2 separate regions of the Homo sapiens genome follow, and region 1 is linked to region 2. The links come from fine-mapping of genetic effects on plasma protein levels. A gene starts in region 2. The other region holds a variant in brackets. All regions are shown on one strand. Distances are between the middles of the regions.

Region 1 (2,896 bases), 16 kb before region 2:
CGCATGCCATGGTGCTAGCTACCCAGGAGGCTGAGGTAGGAGGATTGCTTGAACCCAGGAGGTTGAGGCTGCAGTGAGCTGTGATTGCACCATTGCACTCTAGCCTGGGCAACAGAGTGAGACCCTGTTTAAAAAAAAAAAAATCCCCAGCAATCCTACCATCCCCAGCCTCCAGGAGTGATCTGTCTCCTAAGCATTGAGAAAGTGGAGACTAGGTAGCATAAACTAGTGTGCAAAGCTTCACACTCACATTAGATTGGCAGGATCATTTTATGGGGGAGGAACAGGTACAGCCAGCTTAGGGGCAGAGTAGGGGAGGAGACTGGTAAGAAAAAGAGGTCTACTTCCTATCCATCCCTTTCTTCAGGGTAGAGTTTCACATGGTAGGCTAAGGCAGAAAGCTCTCAACCCCTGCAGGAAAAGAAGAAATTCAGGGCTTGAGCCAGGAGTAAAGGAAAGAAGAAAGCAAGTTATCCTAGACATGAAGGAATGGAAGAAAGAAATGGAGTCCTATCCTGTGTCTGTGCTCCCCACCAAGGGCCAATGCCAGTATGCACCAGTTTAGCCTAACCAACTATTAAAATGTTGAAATCCTTCCATACTGGAAAGAAGCCACTGCCCTGAGCCCTCCAAGTACCTGTCAACTGCCCTGGCCTGCCCCCAGGACCCCTATACCTCCCAGCACAGCAGGCAGCCTCCAGGATCCTATTTAGACCTATGGCTCAGCATCTGTTCTGATTCATTGTTGTCCCCTCTGTACCCATGTTATGCTTTCACCTCTCACCCCAATGGAGTCACACAGGCCTGAGTTTGAACAGTTAACACAGCTTGGAAGGGACACATGCCTGATTCCCATCCTTGGAGAACAATATCATGCTATGAGGAGTAGGAAGGGCAAGAGATATGAAAAGAACAGAGGAAATGTGGTTCCTAGAAGTCAGAAGGCATCAAGGGTCCATCAGTGTAGAAGTGGCTGGGGCGGGAGACGTAAACCTCATCCACGGTGTT[C/A]TGGCCAGCCAACAGTGGGTCACCATTCGGCATGATTTCTTCAATCTTTACACAGTTTCTGAAGACTAGGTAATCCAGAGAGAAAAGTGAGGCCCCGATCTTAGTTAGGAGTTCCCAACCCAGCAGGGAAAGGGAGGGAGGATGGCAGGAAAGGCCTGGGAAGAGCCTGAGTGGGAACTTGTGGGATGAAAGAGCAGGGAGGTGGGGGAAGGCATGTGTAATTCCTAAAAAAAGGAATCACAGAATGGACCTCTCTCCAATGAGGAGCTTGGAGTTCAGCTTTTTCTGTAATGGGAGAGGGAGAAGAGGTAGGAAAGGGAATGTGTGCCATCTTCCATAGCTCCATCTCATCACTTACTTTCCATTGGCTCAGTGTTCAAATGTCTCAGATCACAGGGCAAATCTGGCTCTGGCACTGGCTGTGATACAGGTCCTTGGTCTGGCTCTGGCACTGTTTGTGATACCATGCATAGTGTGGGCTCTATCACAGGCTCCAGAGTGGACTCCAGCACAGACTCTAGCTCTGGCCCCAGATCCAGCCCTGCCTTCAGCAGTGGCTCTAAGTCCAGGCTGAGCTCTGGCTCTGGCACCAGCCCTAGTTCCAGCTCTAATGACTCCAGCTCTGGCTCTGGCTTAAGCTCCAGCGGTTGTTGCAGTTCATCCACCTGTCTGGATACCCAAAGACAGACAAAGGGGCAGGGCTCAGTGGTTCAAATGAAATCAGGAATGGTAGAATAAGCAGAAGCTAGTCTAAGAAGGCAGTAGGGCGGAGGGCTAAAGAGCATGGGTTTGGAATCAGGCCTCCTGGAGTTTGAATCCTGGCTGGGGGACCTTAGGCAAGTGGCCTAACTTTTCTGAGCCTCAGATTTATCATCTATAAATGAGAACAATACCTAGTAATTCTTGAGAGGCAGTAGGGTGGTTAAAATCAGGGCTACGGAATCTAACAGACCTGTATCATTAGCCACGTACCTTAGGTACAAAACTTGACTACTCTAAATCCAGTTCCTTAGCTGAAAACAGTAACAGTGTTTACTTCACAGGACTATTTTGTAGATTCAATAAAATGAGAAAATAAATGCAAACCATTTAGCCTAGTGCCTGGCGCATAATAAACTCTCAGGCCAGGCATGGTGGCTCACACCTGTAATCCAAGCACTTTGGGAGGCTGAGGCGGGCAGATCACTTGAGGCCAGGAGCTCATGACCAGCCTGGCCAACATGGTGAAACCCTGTTTCTACTAAAAATACAAAAGTTAGGCCGGGTGCAGAGGCTCACGCCTGTAATCCCAGCACTTTGGGAGGCCAAGGTGGGCGGATCATGAGGTCAGGAGTTTGAGACCAGCCTGGCCAATATGGTAAAACCCTGTCTCTACTAAAAATACAAAAATTAGCCAGGTGTGGTGGTTGTGCGCGCTTGTAGTCCCAGCTACTCAGGAGGCTGAGGCAGGAGAATTGCTTGAGCCTGGGAGGCAGAGGTTGCAGTGAGCTGAGATCGTGCCACTGCACTCCAGCCTGGGCAACAGGGCGAGACTCTGTCTCAAAAAAAAAACAAAAATTAACCAGGCATGGGTGGCGCTCGCCTGTAATCCCAGCTACTCAGTAGGCTGAGGCAGGAGAATTGCTTGAGCCTGGGAGGCAGAGGTTGCAGTGAGCTGAAATTGCACCACTGCACTCCAGCCCGGGCAATGAGAGTGAGACTGTCTCAAAAAAAAAAAAAAAAAAAAAAAAAATTCTATCCCCAGCCAAGTGCCATGGCTCATTCCTACAATCCCGGCAATTTGGGAGGCCAAGGCAGGAGACTGCTTGAGGCCAGGAGTTCAAGACCAGCCTGGGCAACACAGTGATACCCCATCCCTACAAAAAATTTAAAAAATTAGCTGAGTGTG
Region 2 (2,888 bases):
CTCCATATAGGAAGGAGGAGCTCCATTCTAGAAGACATCTAAATGCTGTGCAATGGGTGGCTCAATCCCAAGAATATGACACGTTTATGACCTGTGAATCTTGAATATGATTATAGGTTATCAACTTTGTGAGATCCTGAAACTTCACTTAAAATTGTTGCCTGTAATCCCAGCTACTCAAGAGGCTGAGGCAGGAGAATGGCTTGTACCCAGGAGGCAGGGGTTGCAGTAAGCAGAGATCACATCACTACACTCCAGCCTGGGTGACAAAGCAAGACTCTGTCTCAAAAGAACAACAAATTGGTTTTTGCCTGTCACCAAGCAGGCTGTCCCATGCATCTTTCTCCCCACTGTTCCCTGCTCACTGCCAGCTGGTGTCTATTTAGGAAACTGAAACTTATGCTTGTTGCAGCCTGAGCCTAACAGAACAGAATTCATGCATATTTGTGGTCTAAAAAGGTCACATGATTTTATTACAAAATAAAGAGAAATGCTTGGGGTGGGAGAGTCTTCTACTAACATGAATAACATCAGCTGCCTTTCTACCTCCAGCAGGAACAAGGGAAGGGAGGGATTGGGCAGGGGCTATTTTCATTTTAACTCTTTTAGTAGTGCTTGATTTTTAAAACTATGTATCTGTATTGCTTTTATGATACCAAAAAAAAGTTAAAAAAATGATCAGGTGGCCAGGCATGATGGCTCATGCCTGTAATCCCAGCACTTTGTGAGGCCCACAAGACGAGAGGATGGCTTGAGCCCAGGAGTTTGAGACCAAGCTTGAGCAACATAGTGAGATTCCATCTCCAAAAAAAAATTAATGATGAGGTCCCAATTCTTGAGGATTTAAGTGTCTGATATTAAAGGAGCAAGTCAGCAAAGATTCAAATATGAAAACAAAACAAAAAACCTGGTCTCCCCAAATGGATTGCAAACACTGAGGTTAAGGGCTGAAACAATTTTTTCTCATTATCTCTCATTCTTAGGCACATATTTTGCACTCAAGAAGCTTTTCTGAAATGAACTGAATTTTGTGTGTGACCTTAGGCAATCGTTTCATCTTTCAGTAGCTTATACTTTTTAACAAAACAAGGATAATAGATTTATCTATCTTTGTTTTTAGATTTATCTATCTTTGAACATCGTTTTTTGGTGAAGATAAAAAATAATGCAGAGCAGAGGGAAAAACGTCAGATACCGAACCAACATAACAATGCCAGATTCCGGGTCTCGGAAGCTGCAGGGCAGTTTTGGGAGAGGGGCATTAGGGTTAGGGAGATAGGCTGGACAGAAGAAGATCGAGGACCGAGCAGGCGACAGCTCCTATTTCAATCTGGGGACCGAAGCTACCCTCTCCAGGGGGTAACCCCTGGGGCCAGTCGCCCTTCCCTCGGAGGAACTCTCACTCTCACCCCCACCCCTACCCCAGCACACCCTCTCAGGGCCCGTACCTGATTAGGGTTGCAGTCCCCGCGCCCTCCAATGGCTCTGGTCGCGACTTCCCGTCCCTAGTATGAGCTCGGGTACTAGAACCTCGCGCCCCGCCTACAACTTCGGCTAACCCCCCTCGGACCCGCCCCCTTGTAGTTGGCAGCGGAAGTCCGGAGCGGCCCCCATTCCCAGCCGCCACCCCGACACTGGCTGCCATTCAGTCAAGCCCTTCCCAGACTGCGAGCTCACTGGCGCCGCCGCAACTCCGCCCCTCCGCAGGGCGGGACAAGCTGAGCCGAAACCACACCTGCAGCTTCAGCGATTGGTGGAGAAGTTCAAGTAGGCACTTTCTACGAGGGGAGGAGTCCAATTAGTGGACTAGCCCAAGACTGAAACAGCTGATTTTCGAGAACCCGCGCGTGAGCCCCGGAACCGAAACTAGCTTGAGGAGCCTGGAGACGCCAAGGGCTCCATGGGAAGGGGTGGGACCGGAATTTCGACGCCTTGGGATAGGAAGAGGAGGGCTGAGGTAATGAAAACAATTTTTTTTTATTTTTATTTTTTGAGACATGGTCTCGCTCTGTCACCCAGGCTGGAATGCAGCGGCGCGATCTCGGCTCGCTGCAGCCTCGACCTCCCAGGCTCAGGTGATTCTCCCGCCTCAGCCTCCCAGGTAGTTGGGACTACAAGCGTGCATAACTCCGCCAGGATAATTTTTTGTATTTATTGTAGAGACGGGGTTTCGCCATGTTGCCCAGGCTGATCTTGAACTCCTGACCTCAGGTGATCATCCCGCCTCAGCCTCTCACAGTGCTGGGATTACAGGCGTGAGCCACCGCACCTGGCTAATAGCTATTTATTGAAAGTACTGTGATAAGCATTTTAGATTCATTGTATCATTTTAAATTTACAGGGCAACTCATTGAGGTTAAAATCATTCTATCTCCTTTAGAAACTTCAAAACTGATCTTAGTTCAAGAAAGAAGTTACTATTCAGTGATCACCGAGGCTCTAACAAGTGGAGCCTAGATTCGAAACCAAACCCTGTGACTTCAACACCCAAACATTTACGTTCTTACGTTTTACTGTACAGCCTTCCTCCTGGATAAATCAGATTAAAATTTTGAAGACATGTATATAGCTTGTCAGGGTAGTACAGTTATTAATTCTGTGGTTACCACATTCTTTTATATCTCAAGACTCCCAGCCCCAGGATCTAAGTCATAGCTCTTGATTATGGCCCACCCCCAGTAGGGAGCTGAACTTACTACTTCTGATATGAAAGAAGCCAGAGTAGTTGTTTCTTCCAAGTCACTCACATCTGAGATGGCCCTCAAACCCTCCTTGGTGGTCTCCGGCTGAGAGATGTTTGCGTCTTTCTGATCTTGGTAATACTGGATCAACTGCTGAACCCCAGACCTTAATGCAGGTTTAAGTGCAGCACTGATCGCTAGACCCAT

Alleles and levels. Positions count from the first base shown, and alleles are read on the strand shown. Strength reflects both the effect of a copy and how common the allele is.
With allele A in place of C in region 1, the plasma level of the protein whose gene starts at base 1,498 in region 2 is lower (weak association).

Evidence for each region. A credible set is the group of variants that fine-mapping cannot tell apart. PIP is the chance, under the fine-mapping model, that this variant and not a neighbour inherited with it causes the effect. The UK Biobank Pharma Proteomics Project read protein levels with antibody pairs (Olink). The fine-mapping took linkage between variants from a reference panel, not from the people measured, so its PIPs are less certain.
Region 1: its variant is the best candidate, but not a certain one, in a credible set for the plasma level of the STAT2 protein (UK Biobank, PIP 0.61). The variant lies in the coding sequence of STAT2. If it changes the protein, the assay may bind it differently, which can mimic a change of level.

The regions. Positions count from the first base shown.
Region 1 is chr12:56,342,459-56,345,354 of GRCh38, forward strand. STAT2 (signal transducer and activator of transcription 2) reads right to left here. Exons shown (of 24, transcript NM_005419.4): 23 at 1,367-1,677; 24 at 1-1,073. The coding sequence ends at 931. Among named protein-coding and RNA genes, the nearest start is that of IL23A, 5.0 kb to the left of the region's middle. The variant C/A (reference allele first, on the strand shown) is at 1,009.
Region 2 is chr12:56,358,610-56,361,497 of GRCh38, forward strand. STAT2 (signal transducer and activator of transcription 2) reads right to left here and starts at 1,498. Exons shown (of 24, transcript NM_005419.4): 1 at 1,449-1,498. It overlaps APOF (apolipoprotein F), which reads right to left. Exons shown (of 2, transcript NM_001638.4): 2 at 1,959-2,888. The coding sequence ends at 2,616. RefSeq lists enhancers at 365-564, 396-565, 1,641-1,820, 1,891-1,980.